2 separate regions of the Homo sapiens genome follow, and region 2 is linked to region 1. Evidence: fine-mapped expression QTL. A gene starts in region 1. The other region holds a variant in brackets. All regions are shown on one strand. Distances are between the middles of the regions.

Region 1 (8,338 bases):
CTACTAAAAATACAAAACATTAGTCGGGTATGGTGGCGCATGCCTGTAGTCCCAGCTACTCGGGAGGTTGAGGCAGGAGAATGGTGTGAACCCGGAAGGCGGAGCTTGCAGTGAGCCAAGATTGCGCCACTGCACTCCAGCCTGGGCGACAGAGAGAGACTCCAGGACTACGTCTCAAAAAAAAAAAAAGGAATAATGAATACAATGTTGCAAGAAGGGAAACACAAAGGACATAAATTGAACAGAAATACAAGAAGCAACTTCCAAGTGACAGCACAATTTACTAACAAGAAACATACATTCCTGGTTCTCTTACCCGCAGGACTCTCCCCCCATTCCCCATCCCAAACACCAAAGTAATACTTCCATTGTCCTCTCATTCACTACCACTGTTTATAAAATTTAAACCACTGGGTATGTTCAAAAGCATATTAGGAAGGAAATAACAGGAAGTTATAGCTACCAACATCCTCACTCCAACACCAAAATCTCCCTGTGACTCAAAGAAATGTTGAAATACAAACACCAACACCATTCGGTCTTAAGGTCATATATAACAATGCATCCCAAGCCTTAATAAACTTGCCCAGGATACTAGGTCTAGACATTCCCTTACACCATGCTTGTAAAAACTATATCACAAAAGTGTTATGCAGTGATCTGAGGTGGTCAAGGATAAAGTAGAAAAATGAGGGCTGGGCACGGTGGTTCATGCCTGTAATCCCAGCATTTTGGGAGGCCAAGGCAGGCAGACAACAAGGTCAAGCGATCGAGACCATCCTGGCCAATATGGTGAAACCCTGTATCTACCAAAAATACAAAAATTAGGTGGGTGTGGTGGCGCACGCCTATAATCCCAGCTATGCGGGAAGCTGAAGCAGAAGAATCACTTGAACCTGGGAGGCGGAGGTTGCAGTGAGCCGAGATCGCGCCACTGCACTCCAGCCTGGGGACAGAGCAAGACTCTGTCTCAAAAAAAAAGAAAAGAAAAGAAAAGAAAAGCAATATAATGCACAACAGAGATCAAAGTAAAAAATACCTAGGCCTAAATCACAGTGATAAAATGAAGGTCATATATTAATAAACTGGCATAAGAGATGGATGGATAACCACAAAATCTTAGCCATCAAGCAGTAGGGGGTTCCTCCTGGAGAATATTAAGGAATGGTCAAGCAAAGGCAATGTATGTTCTGAATTAGCATTAGTAAAAAAAGCTTTAGGTTGGCTTTCATGCTGTTTTCAAAAATATGACATTTAGAGTAAATTCAACTGGCCCTGAGGAAAATACAAATAGCATAAAAGAAATGGGAACAGCCTGGAGAATCAAAAGTACACAGATGAGATGACACATTTCACTTTCATTAGAAACAGCCACTCCTCCTGGATTTCCATAACATTTCATGTCTCTCTCGTAGTCTTATGTCATCATTTTTACTGACATGTTTTATCCCCCAGGTAAACTATACTCTCCTCAAGGGTAACACTGTGCCTGCTTCATCTTTGCAAAACTCAGGGCATTTACTCATTAAGTCAACAAATATTATTCAATATGTAATACGTGCCAGACGCCATACTGTCAACTGGCACTAAATACCTATTGTTTAAATAAATGTTGACTATAAGGTAGAAAAAACAAACAAGTTCAAAAAAGGATCCAAATAATGTCCTGGTATTCTAATTCCACAGGAAATTCAGATGGGAAACAACAAACATTCTTATTGGAATTTTAGTATCATGAGATACATCTACACTACCTGCGTATTGTCACAGCGAGAATGTGGGCCTATAGATTCACAATACAACAGCACTTCCTCTGTATGGCCTACCAAGTATATTAAGCATTTCCACACAGAGATGTTTTTCTCTTAAGCCCAAAAGAAAATTAAAGTAATGATTTAATAGGCCATAATCTTAAAGCCTCCTAAATAAGACCCATAAGATGTGTCTTTGTCAGTGAGTGGTAAGCTGTTCTAATGGTTTGATACATGCATTCATTGAAGTGCTTAGTACCTACCAGATAATGTTGGGCCCTGGGTTTTGAAAAGATGATCAATACATTCCAGAAAACTTGCAAGAACTCAAACAAAAGTTTAGTATAGGTGGGGAAAAATAGAGTGTTTGTTTATGAAAAATAAACGAGTTGAAATTCAAATGCCAACAACGTAAAAAACGTGCCATAATAAATTTTATTTAGATTGGTTTTAGTCAGTACCTGCATCATATCCAAGATTCTTGAAAGGGTTCCCCCATCCTCAATATATTTCGCTTTTTTAAAAAAAAGCTCCTAAAAGATCCACCGCTCCCACTCCACCCCCACCCTAATCTTCTGGGAGGTGCAGAGGGGCAGTGCATGGAGGATAATTTGAAATTGGTTTGGTTCTGTTTTTTAAGGAATGGACCAGAATGCGGAGGCAGGGCAAAAAATTGAAAACCGATGTGTGCCTTCAAACCCAGTCCTCCTACCAGCTCACTGCAGATTCTTGTATTTGTGGCTGTGGCCACGCACAGGTGGTTGAAAGTATCCAGAGTGTGAAAACACAAATCTGCAACTCGTGACAGGAATCTCCGGACTCCAAGGCCTTACACCCCAAAGTCCAGGAAACAAGACGCCTTTCTCAGTGAGTGCTGCTACAGGCAAACAATAAACAAGCATTTTAGGAATCAATAAACACACCTTTACACCTGGTTTTCTCTACCAAACCCAAATAGCGTGCTTTGGGGTCCCGAGACTGTAATAGAAGGTGCTGCCCCTAAAGAAAAGACTGAGGCGGGGCTCCTCTCTCTATAGCTAACCCCAGAAAAAAAAGGTGGAGGGGGAATTGCTGGGGCCCTGGGGAGGGGTTAGAGCCCTGGGGAGGGGCTGCGGGAGGCAAGGAGGAAAGGGGAGAGCAGGGTGGGACCCAGCTAACCCTTCTCCCTTCCAAAGCGGAGGTCGAGCCGCTGCCCCCAGTCCCCAGACCCTGCCTCCTGCCTCCCTCACCTGATCACAGAGATGAGCAGCCCCGAGGGGTCTTTGCTTTTGCTGACTGTGCTTCTGTATTTCCCACCAGCTGCTTCTGCCGCCATCTTGGACGCGGGGAGAGCCGCTAGGCTCCAAGGAAGCCAAGGGTGCGTAAATTCTGTATTTGACCCCGCAGGAGTCTCCACCAATGGGTGAAGAGAATTCCAGAGGCGCGGAAGTGGAAAATCCAATCACTGAAGTGAGGAGGCGGGACTAAGGGAGCAAGTTTTGAGGCCACGACGCGCGTGTTCTCTCTAAGCACTCTGGGAGTCGTAGTTTTCCTTCTCCGTCTCCTGGGCGCGCAGGAAAGCTAAACCAGCTGCAACTTCCTAAGTCTTGTAATGAGTGTCTTCATTTATCTTTATTCTGACTTCCAGCTTTTTTCAGTTTCCTTGCTTTTAGAATTTTGTCAGGCTTTAAATCAAATTTATCTGATGATGCCAAAATGTGTTAGGGTTTGTATTTAAATGAAAGAGGGGTTCTCTGCCGGATGTCTATGTGCGAAGTTTTTGCCTTAAGTGCAAGTGATTTTTTAAAAAATCCAATAAAATACGAAAATGAATATAAGCAGAAATGCTTTTCTTTAGTATTCTGTAAAACTAATGTTTCTACATTAGGTTTATGTGGAGTTCAATTTTTCCCAATGTTCCTATATTTCCAGATAGTTCTAAAACCACACGTACAGGAATAAATGAATATTGATGAAGAAAAGACAGTATAAGCTAAAAACAAACAGACCACACTGCAGATTCCTTTTTTTTTTTTTTCAAGCTAAATGAAATACTTAGTAGTAATGCACATTTGTGTTAATACTTTTACCGGTAAGTTTTTAGTATTTCCTGCATTTGGTTCCGTTGGCTTAGTCATTAATTCATAAGACCAAATGAACAAAACAAAACAAAAAAGACCAGAATGTGCGTGGAAAGTGGTTAGACTGAGGAACAAGAATAATAATAATTTAAAAGTAAGGAAGGAGGTGGCCTGCTCAGTAGCAATAAAGATTGAAGAACTTAAAGGAATAGAAAGCAAACTAACTCAGAGGTCATGGAGTTGTGAGCAGCAAGCTCAGAACACATCAATTACTTTTATTAAATAGACATCGAGCTGGTAGAAGTTCACATTTTTAAAAATTAGTTGAAGATAACACACACACACACACACACACGATAACTTAAAAGTATTCATAACCTTTGGCCCAATAATTCCAGTTCTAGGGACTTTGTTCCTAAAGAAATATAGAGTATTGACATTTTTTAAATAACACAGAAGAATTAAATAAATTATGTAACATTCAAATGAGGAAATAACATATAGCTTCTGGAAATCATAATTTTAATGGCTTTTAAAGAAAATAAGATTTTTGGGCCAAGTGTGATGGCTCACACCTGTAATCCCAACACTTTTTGAGAGGCAGAGCCGAGCAGACCACTTGAGGCCAGGAGTTTAAGACAAGCCTGGCCAACATGGTGAAACTCCGTCTCTACTAAAAATGCAAAAGTTAGCCGGACCGTGGTGGTGTGTGCCTGTAATCCCAGCTGCTTGGGAGGCTGAGGCATGAGAATTGCTTGAACCTAGAAGGCGGAGGCTGCAGTGAGCCAAGATCGTTCCACTGCACACTGCACGCCAGCCTGGGCAACAGAGGGAAACTCTGTCTCAAAAAAAAAAAAAAAAAAAAGATTTTTATGGTATAAGTACAAAAACTGGGCTATAAAATTAAATAATTCATAGAGAAAGGGAGAGGCAGTTGGGCCTAGTGGTTAAGAATGCAGGACAGGCCGGGCGCCGGGTGGCTCATGCCTGTAATCCCAGCACTTTGGGAGGCCGAGGCGGGCGGATCACGAGGTCAGGAGATCAAGACCATCCTGGCTAACACGGTGAAACCCTGTATCTACTAAAAAAAAATACAAAAAATTAGCCGGGCGTGTTGGCGGGCGCCTGTAGTCCCAGCTACTCGGGAGCCTGAGTCAGGAGAATGGCGTGAACCCGGGAGGTGGAGCTTGCAGTGAGTCGAGATCGCGCCACTGCACTCCAGCCTGGGCGACAGAGCAAGACTCTGTCTCAAAAAAAAAAAAAAAAAAAAAAAAGAATGTAGGACATAGGATAAAAAGTGTGTGATCATCTCAACTGTTGCAGAAAAAAGCTTTGTCAAAATCCAAAACACTCTTACAATAAAAACACTCAGAAAACTAGGGATAAAAGGGAACTTCTTATAGGCTATAAAGGGTACTTATGAACAACCCACAGCAATCATCATAGTCGATGAAAAACTGAAAGCCTTCCCACTAATATTAGACACAAAAAAAGGATAACCATTTTTTTGCCACTTCTATTCAACAAAGTACTGCAAGTTATAGCCAGAGCAATGAGGCAAGAACATGAATAAGTCATCCAGATTGGAAAGGAAGAAATAAAACAATATCTATTTTTGGATGATATGATCTTATATATAGAATATCCTAGAGAATACACACAAAAAACTATTAGAGCTAATAAAATATTCAGCAAAGTTGCAGAATACAAAATCAATAGCAACAGAAAATCAGTGGTATTTCTGTAAACTGGCAATAAACTATCCAAAAAGGAAATTTACACAACAATTCCATTTCCAATAGCAGCAAAAAGAATAAAATGCCTACGAATAAACTTAGCCATGAAAGTGAAAGACTGCTACACTGAAAGCTACAAAACATTGCTGCAAGAAATACAAGAAGACTCAAATAAATGGAAAGACATCCATGTTCATGGGTTGGAAAACTCAATATTGTTAAGATGGCCAAACTCCCAAAGCTATCTACAAATTCAATGTAATTCCGATAAAAATTCACTAGGCTTTTTGTGCAGAAACAGAAAAACTGATCCTGAAATTCATACGGAAATTAAAAGAGCCCCAAATAGCCAAAGCAATCTTGGAAAAAAAAAAAAATCAATGTGGAGGTCTCACACTTCCTGATTTCAAAACTTACTAAAAATCCGCAGTAATCAAAATAGCATGGTACTTGCATAAAAATAAACACATAGATAAATATAGTAGAATAAGCCATACAGAAATAAGCCTATTCATCTATGATCAATTGATTTTCTTTTTTTTTTTTTTTAGACGAAGTCTCTTTCTGTCACCCAGGCTGGAGTGCAGTGGCTCAATCTCAGCTCACTGTAACCTCTGACTCCCAGGTTCAAGCAATTCTTGTGCCTCAGCCTTCCAAGTAGTAGACACGGGGTTTTGCCATGTTGGCCAGGCTGTTCTTGAACTCCTGACCTCAGGTGATCTGCCCACCTCAGCCTCCCAAAGTGCTGGGATTACAGGCATGACCCACCGCACCCAAACAGTCAATTGATTTTCAACAAAGCTGACAGTACCATTCAATAAGGAAAGAATAGTCTCCTCAATAGATGGTGTTGAAAACTGGATAAGCATAAGCAAAAAAGTGAAGATGGACCCTACCTCATACAATATGCAAAAATTAACTAAAAGTGGATCAAAGACCTAAATATGAGATAAAACTCTTAGAACAAAATACAAGGGTAAATTTTCATGATTCTTAGCTATGACATCAAAAGCATAAGCAACAAAAGAAAAAATAGGTATATTGGGCTTTATTAAAATTAAAAACCCTCATACATCAAAGTACACTTTTCAAGAAAGTGAAAAGACAGGCACAGGATGGGAGAGAATAAAAGCAAATCACATACAGTATCTGGTAAGAGTTCTGTATCTAGACTATGTGAAGAACTCTTACAACTCAACACAAAAGGAAATAAAAATTAAAACCTAGGCAATGGATGTGAATAGACATTTCTCCAAAGAAGATACACAAATGGCCAAAAAGCACATAAAAAGATGCTCGACATCATTAATCATTATAGGAAAATGCAAAACCATAATGAGATACCACTTCACACCCACTAGGTTGGTTACAATTTTTTTAATGGAAAATAAATGTTGGCAAGTATGTGGAGAAACTGGAACCCTTGTACATTTATTTTGGGAATGTGAAATGGTTCAGCCATTGCAGAAAACAATTTGGTGGTTCCTTAAAAAACTAAACATAAAGTTACCATATGACCCAGCAATTCCGCTCATAGGTATATGCACAAGAGAATTGAAAACAAGTGTTCGGAAAATAACTTGTATACAAACATTCATAAAAGCACCATTCAAAATAGCCTAAAGGTGGAAGCAGTCCAAATGTTTAACAATGAATGAACTGCAACAATATGACTGTATCAGTGTGGTATAAACAAAATGTGCTATATCCATACAATGTAATATTATTCACACATAAAAATGAAAAAAGTACTGATATATGCTACAATATTGATAAATCTTGAAATCATGCTAACAGAAAAAAGCCAGACACAAAAGGCCATATTGTGTATAACCCCATTTATCTGAAATATCCAGAACAGACAAATTCATAGAGACAGAAAGCAGATCAGTGGTTGCCAAGGGCTGCAGGGCAGGAAGAAATGAGGAATGACTGCTCAATGGATACAGAGTTTCATTTTGGAGTGATGAAATGTTCTGGAACTACAGTCAATGGTTGCATAGCTTGTGAATGTATTAAAGGTCAGTAAATTATAAACTTTAAAGTAGTCAAAAGTCATAAATTTTATGTTATGTGTTTTTCACCACACCTTAAAAAAAAATGCAGTTTGTGTAGCAGGATGGCCTAGATTCAATCCCAGCTTTCCACTTCCTGGCTAGATTACCTAGGACAAGTTACTTAACTTTACTCTGCCTCAGTTTCTTTATCTGTAAAGCAGGTGGTCATTGTACTTCACATAGAGAGTTATTGTAAGAATATGTGAGATATACATTATCAGCACTTGGTAAATATCAGCTATTATTACTAAAGTATGGTACTAATTTTGTTGAAAATACATCTCTGGGGTTATTGCAAAGTTGTTTTGAGCGTCAATAACATGGGTAATTTTTTTTTTTTTTTTTACACTTTTCTGTGTTTTACAAAGTTTCCGGGATGGGCACAGTGGCTCATGCCTGTAATCCCAGCACTTTGGGAGGCCGAGGCAGGTGGATCACCTGAGGTTAGGAGTTCGAGACCAGCCTGGCCAACATGGCAAAACCCCGTCTCTACTAAAAACATAAAAACTAGTGGGGCGTGTTGGCAAGCTCCTGTAATCCCAGCTGCTCTGGGGGCTGAGGCAGGAGAATTGCTTGAACCAGGGAGGCGGATGTTGCAGTCAGCCAAGATTGTGCCACTGCACTCCAGCCTGGGTGACAGAAGGAGACTCCATCTAAAAAAAAAAAAAAAAAAAAAAAAAATTTCCAGGTGTTGCTTTTTATAAGCAGAAATACACAAAAGTACTTCCTTTAAA
Region 2 (8,338 bases), 810 kb before region 1:
CTCTGCTGTATTTCACATCTGGTCACACGCTTATTAATTATGTACTTCTTATAACAACTGTGCCTAATTAGGACAGGGTTGACACCTTGCCGAGCCTAGTGATTCTTTATGTTTTCTTGTTCGTGGTACCTCATTACCCTCCCTCCAAATTATGTCCAATTTGTTTTACATTCCTGCCACATTAAGACAATCGCTCTCAGGTGTAGGTATTTCAGCACCCACTTTGCTTTCCAAGCAAAATTGTGTTGACCAGGACTCTCCTTGTTTTCACATCCTGCTAGAGGGACAGCCCCTTGGCTGGTCTTCTGATCACATCTGCCCTGAATGAAATGACTCTGGCTTGGAGCTGGCCCCTGGTCTCTCTCATTGGTTACTGTGAAATTTCTGTGCCCTGGTCCTAGGGAGGCAGCCACAGCTACACACCAAAGTAAGAATCCTGAATTCAATGGCCTCAGTCCATTCATAAAGGCTGTGGGGTGGGAATCCATTAGTTCCATCAAGAAATGGTAAAGGGGCCAGGTGTGGTGGCTCATGCCTGTAGTCCCAGCGCTTTGGGAGGCTGAGCCCCAGGGGTTTGAGACCAGCCTGGCCAACATGGTGAAATCCCATCTGTACTAAAAATACAAAAATTATCTGGGCATGGTCTGTAGTTCCAGCTACTTGAGAGGCAGAGGTGTGAGAATCGCTTGAACCCAGGAGGCAGAGGTTGCAGTGAGCTGAAATGGTGCCAATGCACTCCAGCCGGGGCAACAGAGTGAGACCTTGTCTCAAAGAAGAAGAAAGAAGAAAGGAGAAGAAGGAGGAGAAGAGGATGGAGGAGGAAGGAGAAGGAGGAGGAGCAGGAGAAGGAGGAGGAGAAGAGGAGGAAGGAGGAAGGAGAAGTAGGGGGAGAAGAGGCGGAGAAGGAGGAGAAGAGGGAGGAGGAAGAAGGAGAAGGAGGAGGAGAAGGAGGAGAAGGAGGGGGAGAAGGAAGAAAGGAGGAGGAGGAGAATGAGGGGGAGAAGGAGGAGGAGAAGAGGAGGGAGGAAGTAGGAGAATAAGGAGAATAAGGAGAAGAAGAAGGAGAAGAAGAAGAAGAACTGGTAAAGGGTGAACTGCTAGGTGTGCTAGCTAGTGGGGCACAGTGGATCGTGAGAGTCCTAAGCTTCCAGAGAAGCAAAGCTCAGAAGAGAGTGCACAGAGTCAGGCTGAAATTTGAGCTGTCTTCCTAAATGAAAGGGTGGTCACAGAGAATCGAGAGGGGAAATATGGACTCTGGGAAGGGTAGATCAGAGAGGAGTTGTAAGAAGCCAGTGGAAGTATAAGCTTTGTGTCACAAGGGGCTGTTTCTTTTGCCTGTCATTGCCCGACTCCCATATCAACCTGAGCTGTAACAGGCAATTCTATTTGACTGACTGAATGAATGCATTAGTGCTACGAAATTCACGGATATGACTTGACAGTAAGTAGCATTAGGGTTTGGTTGCCAATTCAAGTTGTCTGTATTGGAGTTTTTCCTCCCAAGCTATTTGAAACATAAATAAGGACCGTCGGGCTCAGAAAACATTCAGACAAGAATAAAGTCTTGGAGAGAGGGTGGGGCTTCTTGGAATGGGGTTACTCTGCAGAGGGCAGTAACTGCTGGAAGAGGATCCCACCAGATTAGTAGTAATGTAATAGAAGTAATAGTACCTAAGGATGGGCAAGATACAGCCCCTATATTAGTCCATTTTCATACTGCTATGAAGAAATACCTGACACTGGGTAATTTATAATGAAAAAGAGGTTTAATGGACTCACAGTTCCACATGGCTGGGGAGGCCTCACAATCATGGCGAAAGGTGAAGGAGGAGCAAAGTCACGTCTTACATGGCAGTAGGCAAGGAGAAATGTGTGGGAGAACTGCCCTTTATAAAACCATTGGATGCTGTGACACTAATTCACTATCATGTGAACAGCACTGGAAAAACTCACCCCCATGATTCATTAACCTCCTACCAGGTCCCTCCCCTGACACGTGGGATTATGGGAGCTGCAATTCAAGATGATATTTGGGTGGGGACACAGCCAAACTGTATCAGCTCCTTTCCTCAAGTAGGTCAGAAACAAGGAGGAAAGGTCATGAAAAGCAGAGGCTTTTCACAAGGTTTCCAGTGTGGTGTCAAGAGTTTCAAGAGGATGGGTTTCAAGAGTATGGGCTGTAGCAGCTCAGGCCTGGTCTTACCACTAAACTTGAGCTGATCTGGACATACTAAAAAATAAACTTGTCTTTCAGAGCCTGGAAGCAGGACTTGTCCTTAACCAGCAAGAGCAACCTGAGGAACCAATCCTTGTCTAATTATTGGGATGAAATCAGTGTGGAGGGGGAAAATGTTCTAGTTGGGCAGTAAGATTTCAAAGCCCTACTGTGAGGTAGGAATAAAAACACCGCCTAGGATGAGAGACCCTGAAAGAACCTGTATTAATAGAGCAGGTAGAAAGAAGTGCTTGTGGGGTAAGGGGCACAATATCACCCAAAGAGTAGTTTCATTTATAAATTGGAAGGTATACTGACAGGCAATAATATATAGCTAAAAGTAACCAAAAATATAGAAGAAACCACCACCAGCACTTCCAAGAACACAATTGCCTGTGTGTGTGTGTGTGTGTGTGTGTGTGTGTGTGTGTATATATATATATAAGAGTTGGGTCCTAGCTGATGAACTACCTCTTTTTCAAGGAATTTATTCCAACGAAGGCTAACTTGAAAGAGATTCTTTCAGTAGTTTCTGGGCCCTTGGGTATGGAAGAGAGGAAAGTAATATTTATGATAAGGGTTGCTGTGAGGACTAAATGGGAACACATGCTAAGTACCAGAGAGTAGATAACAGTGTTAGAAGGAAGTGCTCTCTGGGAGCTGCTGTTCTGAGAACCAAGTTGGATGACATCACTCCAAAGCCTTCCTTCTTCATGGTCATGTTGATTTCCCATCTCAGGACCCCTCCTACTCCCGTGGGCCTACTCCATGGCACAGTGACTAGTGATGCAGGCAGCAGTCCACACATCCCTCCCATTTGTACCTCTGTATAAGAATGAGAAAACGGTTTGCTTTGTTTCCAGCACCCCTTCTGGTAAGGCGTATTTCGTTGGCCTTTTTTTTTTTTTTTTTTTTTTTTTGAGACAGAGTGTCGCTCTGTCGCCTAGGCTGGAGTGCAATGGTGTGATCTGGGCTCACTGCAACTTCCACCTCCCAGGTTCAAGCGATTCTCCTGCCTCAGCCTCCTGAGTAGCTGGGATTACAGGTGTGCACCACCACACCAGCTAATTTTTGTATTTTTAGTAGAGATGGGGTTTCACTATGTTGGCCAGGCTGGTCTCGAACTCCTGACCTCCTGATCTGCCTGCCTCAGCCTCCCAAAGTGCTGGGATTACAGGTGTGAGCCACCATGCCTGACCTTTGTTGGCCTTCTTATCTGCAATAGCACACTTAGGGAGAGGTCTTCACACAAGAACATTACGTAACTGTGTATGTGTTTCGTGGGCCCTGTCCTTGGCAGACCCTGGCTCTCTCTAGCACTTTCTGGTTGGTCAAGGCTGTAAACAGCACAACAGCCTCACAAAATACTCCTAAGTAGGACCAAAATGTGGAAATCTTCACTGTGTCCCAAATGCATATAGGTTGTGAGGTAGCCATTGACCACCCACTGAGTGTGTCACTGGCTGTTCTTTACCTGTGGAAGAATAAAGACTGATGTGCCAACCTTCAAAGAAACTTGGATGTCCTAAATGTCTTGGAAGAGTCCCACAGTCCCTTTCCTGTGCAGAATTGCCATTTTCAGTCCCGTCATTGTAAGCAAAGCAGAGATTTCACTTTCCTAAATGTTGCCCCTGAAACAGCTCATCTGCCATTTTTTGGTTGGTTCTCAGGGCTCTTGACATTCTGCTCAATCCAAACCCATGTTTCTTTTTTAGCGGAGCTTTCCACTACTTCCAAGAAAATTAGTCTGAGCACTCTCAGTCTCACCCTGGCTCTGCTGCCATCACTGTCACCACTCCGGGTTCTCCGCCTGGAGTGGACAGGAAGAAAAAGGAAAGGTACAGAATCAATGCTGGGGGTCACGGCCATGAAGCAGCAGCTTAGGCAACCCTAATCTCCTCTCATCCCCCCTTCTTCCACTCCTGCTTCTAGGGTAGACTATTTCTCATGATATCGTTTAGGGCAGTATGTTTTTCCACAGTTGTCTCCTACAGAGATTCAACTTCTTCCCAGTCAGGCCCTTGGAGCCAGACAGATTGACTACATTCTTTCCCACCAGAATCCCCTGGAACCTCCAGCTGCCCACTGAATCCCCTTCCCGGCAGCCCCACTGCCTGACCTGATTCTGACCCAGCCCTGAGTTTGAGCTGTTGGGATTTTTGGCTCCAGTCCAGTTCCCACACTCTTAGATAATAAGGGTGTCCTCTTCATCTATCCATTTGCCCTTGTGTGTGGTAGCATGGAGCACATATTAGGCTTCTGGGGAATATTTGCTGAATAAAGAACACAAGAAAAATAACATGAAACATTTAAGCTTCTCAAAACACTTTTTAATTCTCCATTTTTCCCATCAAGACCAAAGTTGTACAAACAGGTACAAAATCCCCCACCTTCAGGGTGTGAGGCATCACTGTGTGTGGTCAAAGTCCCATCTCCTCCCCTTTCCCTTTCCACGAGTTTTCAAGATGTGGCCCAGTCAGTGCATTGCTGCCTTCTATGACCTATGAACCATGGGCAGCAAGAGGACTGGTGACCGGGGGACATGGTGAGGTCCAGTGTGCCAGGAACATGGTAAGTGCCCACATTGCGGGGGAGGGAACAATTCAGAGACAGGCTCAGCTGGAGGCCGCACAGAGGAGAAATGTCACTCTGTCCCATCTTCCCTGCATTCAGCTGAGCTCAGACCAAGTGAGCACCTAAGAATCATTTACCCCCAAAGGATGTTTCAAGTGAGATGCAATGTTCTCTAACCATTATTCTCTCAGAAATTAGGGGTGGCGGGGCGGGAATCAAGCAGATGTTTGAATTGCCTTTCATTCCTCCATAGTTGTCTAATTGTCTGGCTCTTGGTTTTTATACAGCAGAAATAAAACAAAATGGCAATAAACCAACCTACAACCTGTGTACAAGATACAGCATACAAAACTGTCCCAGGGACTGGGATCAAAAGACTTCTATTCCTAGCCCTAAATTAGAGGTTCTGTTTTGGTTAGGGAAGTTTGTTGTAAA[C/G]AGCAGCTGAGAAGCCATTTATTTGATTTTGGCAATAGAGACAGACAGCAATGCACATACACTTATTTCATTGAACTGTAAACGGATAAGGTCAGGAGAGGAAAAACCCTACTGTTTATGTAATAGAACCCTACTAAATGGTTTTGGAAGGGACTAAAAGTTAGGTAGCAGCCTACTTTCCTACTTTCCAAGGCTGGAATTATATATATATTGAGTAATAAATCAAATATTAGTAATCCATCCACTTGTTTTTCAGAGTCCAACAATTTGATACCACCTTCCTCCCTATCCCACCCTAGTCCCGTTAGATTTGACTGCATTAAAGTAGTTGTTCAACCAAAACACTCTGTACTGTCGCCTTCCTTTAGCATTTATATGAAAAGCCAAAACCAGAGAGAAAGAATCCTTACACCTCCTCTCCACTAAAGTATCACTGTAGAGAAAACTAAGCTCAGAATATACTCAATAACATACCAAGGAAAAAAGTGAGTGTGACTGAGGGGACCCCCGTCACCAACCGCAGTACGCCCTGCTAAACGGTAGTTATCTTCTTGTCCTTGGTGGCTTGCTTGATGGCAGCCTGCTCGCAGATGATCTCTTTGAGCCTCTGCAGCCTCGTGTTCTGGGTGGTCAGTTCCCCCACCCCAGTCTGGCTGCGGTGCAGCAGGGTCAGAGCGTGGATGTACTCCAGCTCCGTGTACTTCACACCCTGGTCCACCACCAGGTTCAGGAGCTCGTCAGCTGTGTTGTAAAGCATCTCGTAGTACTGCCTGAGAAAGCAAGAGAGAACACTGCTCACTGGCTCCCCACTGGTAACGTCGTCTCGAGGGGACAAATACGCTGTCTATACATTGATTCCTCTACTTACTTCATAACGATTGATCAGCAGGCAGTGTTCTAGGCCCCACCAACAGAATAAAGAACAGGACAACCATAAGCTCTGTCCTTTGGAGCTCATGGGAGCTCTCTTCAGGAGAAGTCTAAGTGAGGACCCAGGGAGGCCGCATACCTTTCTGTGGCTCAGCTCATTCTACATTTTTTTGCTAATTTTGCATTTACCTTGGGAGAAAGGAAAGAAAAGTAGGGGTATAGCCTGAAGAAGGAGAGAAGGCATTGTTAACAGGTTTTGTCTCATTCAATCCCTCATTCATTCATTATTCATTGGAGGTTTTGTAAAATACTGTACATGGTTTTCTGCTCCATAAAGTGGGTTAATAATAGTACCTACCTCTTGGGGTTATTGAAATAGTTGAATTAATTAATACGTATAAAGCACTCAGAATGGTGGTGCTTCATAAAGATTATTATTATTAGAACTATAATGATGCTAATGTGTGACAGTAATGTAATAAAATTAATAGTAGTATATAAGGATGGGCAAGACACAGCCCCTTTCCTCAAGTAGCTCGGAGACAAGGAGGAAAGGTCCTGAAAAGCAGAGACATAAGGATTCCAGTGCTGTTGACCAAGTTCATTCCCGAGCACTGTGCCACTTACCCCTCACTCCACCCAGGGGCTACACCTCCCTTTTCCCAGATACAAAGACGAAAGCACAGAGAAGTTAGAGGGCTTGCCCACATCACAAAGACAGGGACTGACCATGCCAGGATCTGACCCCAGGTTTCTGACTCTAAGTTCAAGACTGTTTTTTCACGGACACTTGACAACTCACAAGAATATTCTGTGTGCCATAAGTGAGGTCCTAGTACCGTGCGTTAATAGCAGAGGAGGAGAAATCGCACCATGCTGAGGGGATGGTGTGGGACTGAGGAAGACTTCCTGTGGGGTAAGATTCTGTCAGGCAGGGCTTCCAGGAAAGAAATTCTAGTTGGAGGGAAGAGCATGAGCAAAGGCATGGAAGAATAATCTGGTTAGACTGGGGAGTGCAGAGCAATAGCAGAGAGTCCTGGGATGAGGCATTTGAAGCCACAGGGTAGAGCCTCTGAACATCAGGCTATGATTTTAGACCTAGTTAAGCCAATAAAGGACTTCCTTCTTCCAGAGAGCAGAGGTGCCATTCAAAATTGTGCTTCTGGAAGATTACTGTGACAATCAAACGCAGAATGGTCTGGCAGGGCATTGGTTACAATTCTAGCAGAAAGAGGAGACTTGAGAGCCACTTAACGGCAAGGCCATTGGCCTGGCTCTGTCCTTTGGTGGAGGAAGACTTGTGCCTGTAATAGAAATATGCATTATAGGGATTCTTCAATGCAGCAGGAAGATGAAGGTGGGAGTCAGGAAGGGGAGAAGATGACCACTCACCATTCTTTAAACCAATACTATGCCACTGCTATCTCTCAGTCTACTGGACTCTGAAGCTGTGACTTCCATGGCCACTCCAAATTACCCAGGAGGTCAAGTTCAACACAGACTCTGAGCCAGGAAGGCTTATCACAGCTTGTCAGCAAAATGAAGAGTGTTACTCACTTCTCTCTGACGTGAAAGGTAACTTTGCCAAGATCGAGGGGACAGAACCAGGCAGTGCACTCAAGGCAACTCTTGGAGACGAAGCAATCTTCCAGACCTAGCAGGATGAGTGGCTCAGAAATCCTGTATTATTAGACTCAGGGCCGTGAATTTGTTTCTTTCTCATCAGGAACATTTTGAAAAAAAGAACCTCCTATGGGGAAATGAAGCTATCTTTGTGGTAAGAAATACATTCTAGGAGCTCCATAATTTCAGGCCTGTTTTATTGAATTGCTGGTACAAGGGGAATGTGGTCAGGAAGAGTTGTGGTGTCTTTTCACACGGTTAGCTTCTTTTCCTCCTGCTAAGCCTCCTTTTCTAACTAACACACTCTTTTAAAAATAGGGGAGAGAATAATCTTTTGTGAATATACTCTAAATAGTGGCAGAAATGGAAAGTGCTCTTTGTAGATTGGTAAGTTAATGAAGCTCTCCTGCAAGCAAATCAGTCAGCATCCTTGTGTACAGGGGGCTAATTTTCTATAGTGGTTTTAAACGAGTGTTCATTTTGGCATCACAGAACCAGACACATAGCAATCACTGGTCCAGGGTGACCCTGAATATAGACAGAAATACTTGGTAGAAGGGGAGATAAAACTCCACTTCCAGGGGTGTGAGACCCCAGTGCCAGATCAGTAAATCTTTTGAA

What was found.
Region 2: its variant is fine-mapped to the expression of EXOC4 in lung (TOPMed, PIP above 0.99). The same link has a PIP of 0.9 or more in thyroid and whole blood.

The regions. Positions count from the first base shown.
Region 1 is chr7:133,247,830-133,256,167 of GRCh38, reverse strand. It overlaps EXOC4 (exocyst complex component 4), which reads right to left and starts at 3,090. Exons shown (of 18, transcript NM_021807.4): 1 at 2,981-3,090. The coding sequence starts at 3,066. RefSeq lists enhancers at 3,004-3,063, 3,274-3,323.
Region 2 is chr7:134,061,947-134,070,284 of GRCh38, reverse strand. It overlaps EXOC4 (exocyst complex component 4), which reads right to left. Exons shown (of 18, transcript NM_021807.4): 18 at 4,524-5,994. The coding sequence ends at 5,757. Among named protein-coding and RNA genes, the nearest start is that of LRGUK, 61 kb to the left of the region's middle. The variant C/G (reference allele first, on the strand shown) is at 5,225.